Linked DNA regions of Homo sapiens: region 1 is linked to region 2. Evidence: fine-mapped expression QTL. Tissue or cell type: esophagus muscle. Region 2 holds a variant in brackets; the other region holds the start of a gene. All regions are shown on one strand. Distances are from middle to middle.

What was found. PIP is the estimated chance that this variant, and not a neighbour inherited with it, causes the effect.
Region 1: BEX5 starts here. The variant in region 2 is fine-mapped to the expression of BEX5 in esophagus muscle (GTEx, PIP 0.98).

Annotation. Positions count from the first base shown.
Region 1 is chrX:102,152,319-102,160,413 of GRCh38, forward strand. It overlaps BEX5 (brain expressed X-linked 5), which reads right to left and starts at 3,659. Exons shown (of 3, transcript NM_001012978.3): 1 at 3,541-3,659; 2 at 2,426-2,492; 3 at 1,394-1,984. The coding sequence starts at 1,947. The coding sequence ends at 1,612. RefSeq lists an enhancer at 3,476-3,615.
Region 2 is chrX:103,012,229-103,020,339 of GRCh38, forward strand. No RefSeq gene overlaps it. Among named protein-coding and RNA genes, the nearest start is that of BEX1, 48 kb to the right of the region's middle. The variant G/T (reference allele first, on the strand shown) is at 4,571.

The sequences.
Region 1 (8,095 bases), 860 kb before region 2:
TACAACTCCTGTGTATGTGCAGAATGAAACCTGTAGCAATGTCTGCACAGAAAATTGATAGTCAAGGAGACTAAGCTATATTCATCAGAGGATGGAAGAGATAGTCCAATTCTGAGCACACTATCATGAGTGTCACTCAAATTTGTCTGGGAGAAGGGGATGAGGAAGGAAGTGGGAGAAAACCATAAAGGGCTGCTTGCATTTATAAGCAGTGTTGGTGAAGTATCTGCCTGGTTTAATTATAACTCTAAAGCAGGGAGGGACACTCTATACATTTTTGAAAAGGCAAAATGGGGATTCGGATTACTGAAGGTTCCAGAGAAATCGGTGGGTCTTTGTCATCTTTAGAAGTCCAGTACATCTGCAGTGGTAGAAGCCAGTGGAGGGAGCAAAACGCAAGAGAAGAGGAAGATGTGCCTAATAGTTATGGTATTATGCAGGAAAGAAAGCCAGAGTAGCAGATGAATAGAAAAGCATTTACAGTTGAGCATCCCTAATCCAAAAATCCAAAATCGAAGTGCTCCAAAATCCAAGGCTTTTTGAACATGACATGATGCTACAAATGGAAAATTCCACACCTGACTTCATATACGCAAACTTTGTTTCACACACAAAATTATTAAAAATATTGTATAAAATTACCTTCAGGCTATGTGTTTGAGGTGTATATAAAATTAAATAAATTTCATGTTTAGAGTTGGGTTTCATCCTCAAGACAGCTCTTTATGTACATGCAAATGCTTCAAAAACAGAAAAAAAACCCCAGAAATCTGAAATCTGAAATGCTAGTCCCAAGCATTTCGGATAATGGATTTTGAACCCGTACTCACCTGGAAATCAACTGGACTTGCTGATAGGCACTCTCCTTGGAATCTTCCCTAAATATGAAGGGCACTTAGAGGGCTGGAGCCTTGCATGTATAAATAGAGCAAGACACAGAGCTCAGTCATCACCTCATTTGATTCCCACAGCAGCCGTCTAAGGCATTTATAATGTAACGTACCTGTAATTATCAGGTACATGTTTCTAAATGAGAGATCCATAGGTAATATAAGATTTATATGTCTTTAAACTGTGTTTCAAGTGTTTATTAATTGCCCCCATTTCCTATATAAGTTGATTGGCAAGTTCCTTGCTTCTTACTTTTTTTTTCCCTGAAACATAGGAAACACATGTATTCATTTTGGAAAAGTGAGAAAAAGTGGATAACCAAGAAAAAAATAAAGAAATTTAAAAGTACCAGTAACTATACAACATAGAAAAAGCACATTCTGGTTTTCATTCATTCATATATATATATATATATATATATATATATATATATATATATTTCATATATATTATATATAGTGTGCATACGTACACATCTAAATGAAATAGTCTATCTGTAGACTGCTTTTAAATTGCTTTATTAACTTTACAGTATGCAATAAACATCTTTCCATGAAAGTTGATGAAAGTCCTCTTCTGACAGAAAAACTTACAGACTAGGTCAAAATGCAATCTCCAATCAGAAAATTGCAGAAGAATGCCAAAAGGTTCACATTAAAGGTACACCAGGAAAAATGCGAATTTAGAAAGCAGGGATTTTATGATTATTAACCTCAAGATTCAAGGCATAAGGCAAAACTCATCATGATGATCATGGTGAGGAGGGTCCCCTATAAGAATGCGCAGACTGTACCTCAACTGAAGTTCCCTAATTTTCCTCCTTAGCTCTCTCATCTCCTCCATGAACCGTTCCATATCATCTCCATCTCCATCTATCATATCAATGTTATCGACAAGCCTATTGGGCACATCCTCTCCAAAACCCGGGGCAGGTGGAGCCCAAACCCCTTTAACATTTCCTCCAGGCTCCTGGTATTCACCACCTCCTAAAGCGGGGGCTTCATTCTGCACTGGGGCCTTCTCCACAACTTTGTTTTCCTTGGGGACATTTTCCATGTTGAGTTTTTTTCCTGTTTTTTTTTTTTTTTTCTTCCTAGAAGATAAAAAGCAAGAAGAGGGAATGAATGCTTGATAGGATTCAGAGCTCTGTTTGGCAAAGGTTTTCCCACCTGAGAAACTTTATGAACCCTGTAGGGGGCGCCCCAGACCCAGCGCTGCCCCAAAGCCCATCATTTTCCCTGAAAATCCCTTCCCCAGGCCACTCCTACCGCCAAAATGCAAGACGACTTAGCGGAGGGGGACGATCATAGAGAGACCAGACTTCACCTCCCTGGGATCCTAATAAGCTCTCCAGGAGCGCCCCAGATCTCGCCCCTCTACTCCCTTCTTCCCTCATCAGATACAGGCTGTCATTTTATGAAGACTCTCCTAAGTTTCTCCTGCACTCAACTCGGGCAGGAAGGGCTGTGAGTCACCCAGATTCTGCTCTGATCCTTGATACCCCTACACCAGAGGGCCCCAGGCAACCTCCTACCTTCAGGGATCAGAGGCAGTCTTTCTCTCTTAGCCTTGAAATCGGCTGCACAAACGCACTTAAAGACCTGCAGACAAATGTGACAATTACCAGGACTGATCTTTTAATCAAAGGACCGGTAATGGGAGTTGATTTAGGGTTCTCCTAGTATTAGCACCTTCTGTTTCTCCTCCATCCTGTCTCACGGCTTCTTTTCCCACCCTGTGACAGGCTATCCCACCTTCCAGAAATAGGCATCAAAGATGATTATTTCCAAAACGTTTTAACCTCTTCTTTAGGCGCCCATCTCTACTGTTTCCTCTTACCTGTCATCTAGTTACCCTTTCTGCAACGCAGGCAACTTGCCTGGCGGGGGAGTTAGAAGAGCTTGCTGAATGAATACGTAGTTTATTCACAAAGAATTTCAATCTAGATATCCATCAGGCCCTCTCTCCACCCGATCCCCACTCCCATGCCCACCATTTTATGCATCAAGATGGACGATGAGTGAAGAGGTATGTGGGCATTGAAAACTAGGACCTGCTGCGGTCTCTGCGCTTTGTCATTCTCACTCCAGGATCTACAGGTAGCGCCCACGCTTACACCGACCGACCTGCTGAGACCAAAAACAGTTTCTCGCTCCTCGCCTCTGTCCCTCAGTCAGAAGCTCGCCCGCTCAACTGCCGCAATAGGGACCTGCTTTCCAGACCTAATCTCTGTCCCCCTCCTCTGCAGCAATTCCTCTCCTCGGCCCCCGCAGCCTATCATTTCCAGCTCTAAATGGGTAGAGGGTGAAGAAAAGATACCTAGAAGGCAGGCCTAAAACCTTGGCAGGGTCCGCCCTCCCCAACCCTTGGTTGCCGGCTGTACCTCCCTCCCGCGGACCTGCAGGAAGCAGGCTGTTTCCTTTCAGTCTCCTCCACCGGCTGGACTCCATCAGACATTGCCCGATGGCCGGCCTCCTAGGAGATCTCAAATGGTACCCATTCTCAATCCAGCCCCCTCGGGAGATCCTCTCCCCAACCGCTCCATTTCTCGCACTAAACGGGTGTGTATCTGGAAAGGGTGTGTATCCAGTCCTAGACCCGCTCTGGTCTTTGCCCTCTGCTGCTCACACACCGGTCAGCGCCACCTACCTGCCAGGGCTCAGGGGTCAGCTTCTACCACTTTCCACCTTTCCTGGGCAGCTGGCTCGCCTGCCTTCAGGGCAACAGCGAGCCGTCACACGGCCAGCGACAACTACCAGACTGCAACTAGGAGGAGGGACTAATCCACGCATTGGCTCTGGGTCTCCTAAGGGTCACGTCACTGTGAGCTCAGATTTCCAATTACCATTCACACCCGCAGTGCGGCAGGAGGGTGGGGGCGGGACTGTGGGCGGGGCCACCTTTCTCTTCATTCGTGCTTTCTCCACCACTACCACAGGCTACTATCCACCCCTCTATTTTTTTATTTAGCGATCCCCACGACCAAACGGGTCATAATATTTTGTATTTGGCTTGCTCTGGTTTCTGCTGGAGCTTTTAAAAAATCGCTTCTTCCTCTTCTATACACCTAAACGCACACTTCTCTCCCCTTCACGTCCAGCAAGTAAAGCCCTAACAGTCTTGTAGGGCTTGGTCCCAGATTGGAACCCGGAGAAGGGGTGGGGAGCGAGAGGCTAGGAAGTCTGGAAAATAGGCAGGAAGTGGTATTCAAATTTTTTTTTCACTTCAACTACTTTCCTTTTTGTTTGTTTATTTGGGAAGGGGGTTCCTTTTATTTTTCATCAGCATGCATTCATTTTGTTGTTGTTTTTATAACTAGACAATACAATTATTTTCAGTTGAAAAAACAGGATTCGAGTTGTAAAAACATGGCAATCTGTTTCTCCTGCTGAATCATATTATAAATATAAACCTTCCAGAAAGCATTCCCCTGCCTCCTTTAAGGACTTTGAAATAAGGCCGGGAGCGGTGGCTCGTGCCTGTGATCCTAGCACTTTGGGAGGCCGAGGTGGGTGGATCACGGGGTCAGTAGTTCAAGACCAGCCTGGCCAAGATGGTGAAACCCCGTCTCTACTAAAAATACAAAAAGTAGCTGGGCGTGGTGGCAGGCGCCTGTAATCCCAGCTACTCGGGAGGCTGAGGCAGGAGAATTGCTTGAACCTGGGCGGCAGAGGTTGTAGTGAGCCGAGGTAGCACCATTGCACACCAAGCCTGGGCGATAGAGTGAGACTCTGTCAAGAAAGAAAGAAGGAAAGAAAGAAAGAAGGAAAGAAAGAAAGAAAGAGAAAGAAAGGAAGAAGAAAAGAAAAGAAAAGAGGAAGGAAAGAAGGAAAGAAGTGATTTTCTCGTGAAGGATCTCTACATGTCCTTCCGTGAAATGATGCATTGAGTCTAATAGAGCCTCTCTGGTGGATTTTCATGTCTTGAGAACCTGTGACAAACTGATGATCTCCTCTAAATTGTATTAGTGTAACCACAATTTACAATAACACCTAGCCCTGATGATTCAGGACAATAATTTGGGGAAGCTACCCTGACAGATGAAAATGTATTGTGATGGACACATAGAGGGGAACAACACTGGGGCCTACAGGAGGGTGGAGGATGGGAGGAGGGAGAGGATCAGTTTACCTATATAACAAAGCTGCACATGTATTCCTGAACTTAAAATAAAAGTTTAAAAAGTATTGTGAAATTACAATGTTAAGATAATAGTGTACCAGAATAAATTTAGAACAAATGAACCAGAAAAGAAATTCAATTATCAAACCCAAATATGGAAAAAATGCTAGTAAATGCATTGAAATATTTTGAATCAGTGGGGAAAGGTTAGATTGAAGAAATTGTATCGGGATAATTGACTATTTTCAAAAACAATGAAGTGCCTTATCATTCTCATACACTTAAAAATAGACACTAAATGTTTGCATAAAAGACATTAAACCATTAAAAATAGAACTTAGCATGTTATTTTTTATATAATAGAATGGAAAAGTTGTTTTAAATACAGCACCAGATCCTGACAAGACCAAAAGGCAACTGGCTCAAATCTGCTGGGGACCCTCCAAGTCTCAGAAATGATTTAGAGTGCTCCTCAGAATTATCCTAACTAGTGATGAGAAGTTGGGGTATTTTTCTACAGACTTGGCCCTCTATTGGTGGATGTCACGCTGAGGATGTTAAAATCTCTGGCACTTTTAAGTTGTCCTACACCTGGGCTGAGCAAGTTCCCAAGGTACCAGAAAAAGCCCTCAGCAAAATTAGAAAACACAGGTAAGGTAGAAGGATAATATCAGTTTTATCCCCGCTACAGGAAATATACTATTCACATTTTACTCTAAATCAGTCCAAATATCTCCCTTCAAAAACAAAGATAATACACACATATTCATTTTCTTCTTCTTCTTCTTCTTCTTCTTCTTCTTCTTCTTCTTCTTCTTCTTCTTATTATTATTATTATTATTATTATTATTATTATTATTATTATACTTTAAGTTCTGGGATACATGCGCAGAATATGCAGGTTTGTTACATAAGTATACATGTGCCATGGAGTGATTTGCCGCACCCATCAACTCATCATCTACATTAGGTATTTCTCCTAATGCTATCCCTTCCCTTGCCCCCCCACCCCCAGACAGGCCCCAGTGTGTGATGTTCCCCTCTCTGTGCCCATATGTTCTCATTGTTCAACTCCCACTTATGAGTGAGAACATGTGGTGTTTGTTTTTCTGTTCCTGTGTTAGTTTGCTGAGAATGATGGTTTCCAGCTTCATCCATGTCCCTGCAAAGGACATGAACTCATCTTTTATATAGCTGCATAGTATTCCATGGTGTATATGTGCCACATTTTCTTTATCCAGTCTATCATTGATGGGCATTGGGTTGGTCCCAAGTCTTTGCTATTGTACACACATATTCATTTTCATATTTATAGATGTTTGGGTTGTTTGTAGTGTTCATTATCATAGATGATGTTGATTGAACTTCTGTGTACATAAAATTTTCATACTAATATCAAATTTTGAAATTTCTAGAACAGTCGTTTCTATATATGTGTGGATATTTTTCAGTGTCATAGAAGTCAATCCTGAAAAATGTCCAAATTTGGTATCTATAATGTATGAGAATTCCTGCTTTTTCATGTCTGCCAATGCTTAATATTGCCTGGCGTATTAATCGTTTTCACACTGCTGATAAAGACATACCTGAAACTGGTCAATTTACAAAAGAAAGAGATTTATTGGACTTACTTTCATGGGGCTGGGGAGGCCTTGCAATCATGGTGGAAGATGAAAGGCAAGGAGAAGCAAGTCACGTCTTACACGGATGGTGGCAGGCAAAGAGAGAGCCTGTGCAGAGAACTCTCGTTTTTAAAACCATCATATCTCATGATTCTCATTCCCTATCATGAGAACAGCGCAGAAGAGACCCACTCCCGTAATTCAATCGCCTCCCACTGGGTTCCACATGGGAATTGTGGGAGTTACAATTCAAGATGAGATTTGGGTGGGGACACAGCCAAACCATATCACCTGGTTTATTTTTTTTAACTATTATTGTATTTTATTTTTTCTTTTGTTTAATTTTTTATTTAAATACACTTCTCAAGGTCACCAGGTAATGTTTTCTAAACTTAACACATCATAAGAAGCACTTGGGGTTAAGATTTTTAGGCTCTTTCTCTAAAGATCCTAGTTTAATAGATTAGAGTCAGGTGTGAAAACCTGCATTTAAGAAGCTCCTTTGACATAATTTTTAATATCAGATAGAGTTGGGAAACCCTGTCACAGTTAAAAAACAAAATGAAACAAAGAAAAAAGATCTCCCATCATTATGTAAGTGATCTTTTTTTAAAAAAATTATTATGAAATAATTTCAAACTTATAGAATGTTTTTGAGAAAAACCCCACATGCCCTTCACTGCATTTCCCAGTTCTCAGTTTTGCTATATTTGCTTTCTCATTCTCCCTTCATATTGAAGAATACATTATTATTTTTTTCTGAACCATTTGAAAATCAATTGAAGACCAAATGGTCATTTAAAAATATTTAGTGCAATTGAGTCCATATTATTATATCATTAATTAATATAAACTGAAAAAACTGAAGTAATCACAAATGGTGGAGCAGCCATACATCAGGAATTTTTAGCTCAGTTAAAAATTTATAAGATAATCTGGCGCCATGAAAATGCACCACTTAGATCTCCTGCTGTGGGAAGTATTGTTGATTGATGGTTCTAGTTGCTGACCCTCTGAATCCACTAGCACATTCATGCTGAGGTCATGAATCCCATGGGCTGATCCTTGCCAATAACTAGCACTATTCAGTTGCATTTCTGTAAGTTACAGGGCTTCTGTAATTGAAGTCTTTGGCTCCACAGCTCCCCTTCAGCCTAGCTGAAACCTTAGGATTATGTGACAGTCTAGGGCTCTTCCTGTCAAATCTTCCTCCTTTCCCTGCTCTCCTTCACCAATGTCAGATCTGCATTACCATCTGAACACTCTCTCCACCTTCTCCCACTCCTTCTCCTTTATCCTTCACAGGTGTTGTCCCCAGTTAAACTCTTGCTCATCTATTCCCATTTGAGTTGTTACTTCTAAGAGGATAAGAGCTAACATAAGTGGTGACAGGAGCTGTCCAAGAAAAATTATGATACAGTGGAGTTTGGGATCTGACTCACTCGCTACCCACTGGGCAA
Region 2 (8,111 bases):
AATCTCAAGTTAGTTTTATTTGTCAATGAAATCATGCAAAGATTATTCTGGTTTTGGCTGGGCTTATAGTCTTATAACCTTTGTTATAAGTGTTTTATAGATCATTCAGGTCCACAGTTCTCAATCCTGGCTACACATTGGAATCACTAAGAGAGCTTTTTAAATACCCAATATCCAGGTCTGCCCCCTAGAACATTCTGGGATGGAATCCATGCTTTAATATTTAAAATGCTCCCCGGAAACTTCTGTTTCCAGCCATAAGAGAGGACTAGAAACTGGATCTAGCCTTTCATCCAGAAATCTGGACAAAATACAGTGTATGTTAGCATTCAGACGTTAGACAACAGTCATGGCAAGACTGTGAGATCTATTAGAGAAAGGAAATGAAGCAAGTCCTACAATTTCGTCAACTAACTGGTCTAAATTGAGGAAACATTGAAGTTCAGGTAGACCAACGTGGCTAGAATTTGTGGGCAGAGTTCTGGAGAGTTGATAGCTGCAAAGAAAGAGTTGCACAGTATTGCAAAGAGGTCCTTGGGTGTTTTGTTAAGAATTGATCTGAGCATACGTGAAAAAAAAAAATCTAAGATCAGGAAAAGAACCACTAGAAAGCAATAGGATGAACAATTCCCAGAGCTCAAACAGGGCTAGGAATTGTTCTTGTTCATTCCAGCCAGAGTGGAAAACCTTGTAACATAGAAGACATCACCTAGAGTCCCAAGAAGGGTGTCACCTTAGTAATGAAGCTAAAATAGCCCTAAAATAAAAGGTGTTATGGACTCACCCTAAAAAAAAAAAGATAAAAAGCCTTGAAAGGATCCAATTATTTCCAAGTAACTTACTTGGCTCTCACAATAAAACTTTATAGGAGTACATACTCATCTCCCAACAAAGTACAACTCACAATGTCTGGCATCTGACCAAAAACTACCAAGTATGTTCGTGTTCTATTGCTGCCATAAGAAATTACCACAAACTTAGTGGTTTCAATAACACCCGTTTATTATAGTCTCTGTGAGTAAGAAGACTGGGCATCGTATAGCTCTTCTGGGCTCTCTGCTTATGGTCTCAAAAGGTTGAAATCAAGGTGTCAGTTTGCTGCATTCTCATTTGGAACTTGGGATCATCTCCCAAGCTCAACTTCAGTTCCTGAAAGTTGTAGGACTGAGGTCCCCATTTCCTTGTTGGCTGTCAGCTAGGAGCCGTCCACCTTTCTTCTCATAATGCCCCCTCCATCTTCAAACCAGCAGTAGCGCATCAAGTTCTTCTCATACTTCAAATCTCCCTGACTCCCTCTTCTACATCTGCTTTCAAAGACTCTTCCTTTAATGATTACATTGGGCCCACACAGATAAACCAGTATAATTTTCCTATCTTAAGGTCAAATGATTGGTAAACTTTACTAACAACATACCTCGAAGGTCATTGATTGTGAATAAACATGAGCTTATACCATAGGCATAGTAAAGATACTAATGACCAATACAGATAGAGAAAAAATCAAAATGGCCAGTGTATTCTTATTATTCTTATTCTTCCTGTTCCTCAGTTTCTCATCTCATCTGTAAAATGGACATTAGCAGCACTATTTCGCATGTGAGCATTAAAAGACCGAGTACCCAAAAAGCACTTGGAACATAAGAACTTTGCCCAAGACTGCACAATTAGGGAGTGGGACAGCTTGGATTTGTGTCCAGTACATCATGCTACAGAGCTTGGGAAACTCAGAGATTTGTGTTAAGTGAAAGACGCAGTCTATAAGAGCATATACATTTTAGAAAGTCATTATACAGTACTTACTACTTTGTATTTAAATATATTTATATATAAAAATGAACCTAGTGATGAAAAGGTGTATTATGACATAGGTAAGGTGATGTTTATTGCAATCCTGGGGACAGAAGCCATAGTGTAGTGGTATAAATAGTCAGTGGGAAGTGATGAATACTATCAGGGAATGTAGAAAGACACGAGAGAGAGAGAGAGAAAAAATGAATATTGATACTGTGGCTAAAGGGAGGATGAGGAGTCAGGAATAAACTTTTTTGAATCTTCAATTTCTTGAACAAGTTTAAAAATTATATGAAGGAACCATCTCATCTCAAATTTAACCTTTGAAGTCGCCCATATATTCATTGCCTTTCTTATCCTCTTATTTACAATTTAGAGCCCATTAGATGCCTCAAACATAATAGTATGGATTTAGAGATCAATATATAGTTAGTGAATGAAAAAATGGACAAGTGTGTGTCAAGGAAATGCTAGTAACTCTTGAATTTTTGCCTCTCCAGGAGGCAGAGATGGCTGAAATCCTGGTGTGATATTGCTGGATAATGCAAGAGCTGAGGGCCCCTGCCCTGGTGACAGCAAATGGGCCCAGAATTTTCCTATAAATATATTAATATACTGAGCAGTCAAAGAGCAGCCACTAGGCAAACATGACCGACCTCTTGTTTCCCTGGTGCGATCTACCATTGATCTCACTAGGTAAGTTTAAAGACATTCTTCCCATCATGGGGAAGAATGATTTGGGTCTGCTCAGATTCATGATGTTGAATACACCCAAATCAGCTTCTGAAAACACCCCAAATGTAGAGAAATCTCTGTCTCCAAAACTTTGAACTCAAGGCATATCAAAGACATTTGCTTCCTTCCTCTAAATATCTGTATTCTTATTAAAAGGAACAATGAGAAATGACTTTTCACAATGCCTTCTTGGCCCTGAGGCTCAGCCAGCGCCTAATGCTGTGTCTCAGCATTTAAAGGGCCGCTGACGTCTTTTACTCCATGCCATAATCTCTGGACAGGTTTTCTCATTTACACCTGGGGACAGCTCCATAATGATGGTATGGTCAGTCCCATTTCACAGATAACCAAGTTCAGGCTCACAGAGCCTAAGTCACCTTTCCAGGTAAGTGGCAGCATTGGGGTGAGTTTCCATCCCTCACCCTTCCTAGAGGACTCTGAGCAGCCTCCTTTTTAGAAGATGGCTTCCAGGGCTTGAGAAATGGTCAGAGTCCACCCCCTGCTATTGTGACCCCACAAGCATTTACTCAACAACTCTTCTGGGTAATGAAGATGATAGAGGTGAGATCCCATCCTTTGTGCCAAGAAATGTAGGTGTAGGACCACACGAGTTGGCAGATACCTGAAGTTGATGAGTGGGCTCAGGCAGAAGCTCAGGTGTTGGCCTTGGGATGGGTGACCAGGAGAGAAGGAAAGTAACATGCACTGAACCACTGTAAGCTAATGCACTTTATACTTCATCTCCTTTAATTCTAACAGCTATTCAAGATACCCACTGATATGGTTTGGATCTGTGTTCCAGCCCAAATCTCATGTTCAATTGCAACCTCCAGTGTTGGAGGTGGGGCTTAGTGGGAGGTGACTGGATCATGAGGGTGGTTTCTCATGGTTTAACACCATCCTCCTTGTTGTTGTCATGGCGATAGTGAGTTATCATGGATCTGGTTGTTTTAAGGTGTGTGGCACCTTCCCCTTCTCTTTCTCATCCTCCTGCTTCAGCCATGTAAGACAAACCTGGTTCCCCTTAGCCTTCTGCTATGATTGTAAGTTTCCTGAGGTTTCTCCTGAGACCTTCCCAAAAGCTGAGCAGATTGACAGCATCATGATGCAGAACCGTGAGCCAATTAAACCTCTTTTCAATATAAATTACCCATCTCAGGTATTTCTTTATAGCAATGTGAGAAAAGATTAATACACATATCATGATGATTATTTAAATCAGGAAACTAAGGAGAGCTTATGTAAAAGCAGGGAGACAATTTTGTTATCTCCTGATCAGTAGCCAATTCTGGAATTAGAGGTTTTGTTTGTTTTACATTTTGTCCCAATGCCTCCAGAACTCTGGATGTTCTAATCTCCTTCAACCCTGATAGTACATGTGCTCTAATGAAGTGTTCAAGAATTTTTCTTTTAAATTACTACCTGTACATATTTTCATCATATTATTGAACTTTTAGAACACATTCTAAATGAAAATAATACTAGTGATTATACTGAAACAGGGGAGAAAACATTCACTAACTACATATCAGATATAGCGTTAACATCCATGATTTCTGAAGAACACTTGCTAACAAAATGGTTAGTAACCAATTTCAACAGATAATTCAAATAAATATATATGTGAAACGCAAACATGTTAAATATGCTAAAATCATAAGAACTAATAAGATTATTAGTTATCACTAATAACAATATTAAGTGAAAAAGGATAGTTGCAATAGAAGCTGAATACTGTGATTTCACTTTTGGAGCAGACTGTGTGTGTAGGTGAACGTGTTTATGTGCACCTCACCTGCAGGGACACATCTGGAGAGTATGCACCATTCTATGGAAACAGACCCCTTGGGAGTCAGGGGATAGAAGTAGGGCCAGTGAGAGGTGCAGATTAATTTTGATTTATGAATATATGTTTGTAAATTGTTTGAAATCGGTGTTCAGGAAAAAAAGTATTTTGATAAAAATTTGAAAACAAAAAATACTTGTGAACAGAATGACTAATGTAATGTGCACATATATTCATTAATTTGAAAAAGCATTCATT[G/T]TATTCCATTTTTGGTGAAAGACGTAGAGTTTTAAAACTGAATTGACAGTGTAGTGTGTGTGTGTGTGTGTGTGTGTGTGTCTGTCTGTCTTCTCTAGCTCTATCACCTCGAATACACACTCACAGTTTCAATTTTACCTTCAATTCAGACAGAGGCTGGAACCGATCTCAGTTTTAGATAGCCCTAGAAATGAGAGATACAGAGAGATGGCTACCATTAGGAGAATAATTCCAGAAAACGCTGGCTGATTACCATTAAGTCAAGATCCCAACCTTCATCCCTCCCTACTCCTTGCTGACTCCCCTGATCTGACTCCCAGAGCTTCAATCCTGGCTCTGGTCACCAGGCGCGATGCTTCTCCAGTTTGCTCTTTATCATCTTGTAATGGTGTGTGTACTAAGATAGCAATTCTTTTTGGAAAATTAACATGTATATTAAAGCCTTTCCCTTTGCTGTTGGCACCAAATCTATATCACATTCATTCATTTATCTCTTCCCTCCTCAGCGTAGGTTGAGATGTCTACACTTTAGGAGGGTCCCTCCCAGAGAACAGGGCACTCACCCTCCATTATCCCACCCTTGTACAGGCTTCCCAGACCTTCTGCTGCCCCCTCTCAGTGATCCCCTCTCCAGGACACAAGGGACACAGCCGCCCAGACCCCACTCTGTCACCCCCATCCTCTGCCAGTCACCTCCTGCTACCCTGCACTGCCCTTTGCCTGTTGGAGACTACCAAGGTGCACTAAAGCTGCCTGGTGTTTCATGGTATGGATGTCCCAGAGTACATGCTTTTACAGTCTTATTTACACCTATCTGGGTTTTTTTCTGACAGAATTATAATTGCTCTGTACTTCAGTTCATAAACTGGGTTTTAAGGGAGGTTATCTTTTTTTACACTTCATTGTAGAGAAGTTTGATAATACTGGTACGTTGATGTCGCCTTGTGACAGAAGCCTGAACTGCAGTTTAAACATCGCTGAGCAGAAAGGTGGAGGGGTTGTAACCCAAGCCCACCCTACAGAGCTTTCTGGAAGTCTTCGTGAAAAGGAGGTCATTCCAAGTATATAAGGATACTGAGCATCTTCCAACAGAAACTGCAACCTATTAGGGTGCTGAAGAGAAAGCTTTATGTGAGAGAAAAAGAGTATTTTAATTTATATTCTTTGAGACCTGTGGATAAATATCTATAGACGTGTATACGCACAAATGGATCCAAGCCACTTAGGACTTTGTAACCTGATTTTGCCTTTATTATGACAATTATTGTATGTAAATACATTTCTATCATCACATTTTAAATTATTTTACAACTTTTTAAAATATCAACCAGGTGTTTCATTATACAGAGGCCCCCAAACTTATTTCATTAGTATCCCAGAGATAAAAATTTAGTTTATATTTTTACGACAAACAATAGTACACTTAACATCCTTGCTCATATATATGCAAAAACTTTGTAAGCACTTCTTTATAAGTTTCTAAAAATAATTTTCAGGTTTTTTTCTTCAACTTTTGTTTTAATTTCACGGGTACATGTGCCAAATGTATAGGTTTGTTACATAGGTAAACGTGCGCCATGGTGGTTTTGCTGCACAGATCATGCCATCACCTAGGTATTAAGCCCAGCATCCTTTAGCTATTCTTCCTGATGTTCTCCCTCCCCCTCCCGACAGGCCCCAGTGTGTGTTCTCCCACCACTGTGTGTCCACGTGTTCTCATCATTCAGCTCCTACTTATAAGTGAGAACATGTTTGGTTTTCTGTTCCTGCGTTAGTTTGCTGAGGATAATGGCTTTGGTTTGTCAGAATTTTATTTAGGATTTTTGCATAGATGTTCATAGGGATGTTGGCCTGAAGTTTTCTTTTTTTTGTTTTATTTCTGCCAGGTTTTGGTATCAGGATGATGCTGGCCTCATAGAATGAGTTAGGGAGGAGTCTCTCCTTTTCAATTGTTTGGAGTAGTCTCAGAAGAAATGGTACCAGCTCTTCTTTGTGTTTCTGGTAGAATTCAGCTGTGAATCTGTCTGGTCCCAGACTTTTTTTTTTTAATTTGTAGGCTGTTTATTGCTGCCTCGATTTCAGAACTCGTTAATGGTCTCGTCAGTGATTCAACTTCTTCCTGGTTCAGTCTTGGGAGGTTGTATGTGTCTAGGAGTTTCTCCATTTCTTCTAGATTTTCTAGTTTTAAGTGCATAGAGGTATTTATTGTATTATCTGATGGTTGTTTGTATTTCTGTGGGGTCAGTGGTGGTATTTCCCTTATTATTTCTGATTGTGTTTGTTTGATTCTTCTCTCTTTTCTTCTTTATTTGCCTATCTAGCAGTCTATTTTACTTTTTTCACAAAACCAGCTGCAGATTCATTGATTTTTTGAAGGCTTGTTTGTTTGTTTGTTTGTTTGTTTTTGGATTTTTTTTTTTTGTCTCTACCTCCTTCAGTTCAGCTCTGATCTTGGTTATGTCTTGCCTTCTGCTAGCTTTGGGTTTTGTTTTGTTTTGTTTTGTTTTTTTCTCTTGGTTCTCTCGTTCTTTTAGTTGAGATGTTAGGTTGTTAACTTGAGATATTTCTAGCTTTTCGACGTGGGCATTTAGTGCTATAAAATTCCCTCTTAACACTGTTTTAGCTGTGTCTCAGAGATTCTGGTACATTGTCCTTTTATTCTCATTAGTTTCAAAGAACTTTTTGATTTCTGCCTTAATTTCATTATTTACCCAAGAGTCATTCAGTAGCAGGTTGTTCAACTTCCATGTGGTTGTGTGGTTTTGAGTGAATTTCTTAATCTTGAGTTCTAATTTAATTGTGCTATGGTCTGAGACACTGTTTATTAGGATTTCAGTTCTTTTACATTTGCTGAAGAATGTTTTACTTCCAATTACGTGATCAATTTTAGAGTAAATACCATGTGACAATGAGAAGAATATATATTCTGTTGATTTGGGGTGAAGAGTTCTATAGATATCTATCAGGTCCACTTGATCCAGAGCTGAGTTCAGGTCCTGAATATCTTTGTTAATTTTCTGTCTCAATGATCAGTCTAATATTGACAGTGGGGTGTTAAAGTCTCACACTCTTGCTGTGGTGGAAGATAAGTCTCTGTAGATCTCTAAGAACTTGCTTTATGAATCTGGGTGCTCCTGTATTAGATGCATATATATTTAGGATAATTAGCTCTTCTTGTTGAATTGAACCCTTTGCCATTATGTAATACCCTTCTTTGTCTTTTTTGATCTTTGTTGGTTTAAAGTCTGTTTTTATTTTTTATGTTTGTTTGTTTGTTTTTTCAGAAAGTAGGATTGCAACCCCTGCTTTTTTCTGCTTTCCATTTGCTTGGTAAATTTTCCTCCATCCCTTTATTTTGAGCCTATGTGTGTCTTTGCACATGAGATGGGTCTCTTGAAGACAGTATACTGAGGGGTCTTGGCTCTTTACCCGCCCTGCCTTTCTGTGTCTTTTAATTGGGGCATTTAGCCTGTTTACATTTAAGGTTAGCATTGTTATATGTGAATTTGATCCTGTCATCATAATGCTAGGTGGTCATTTT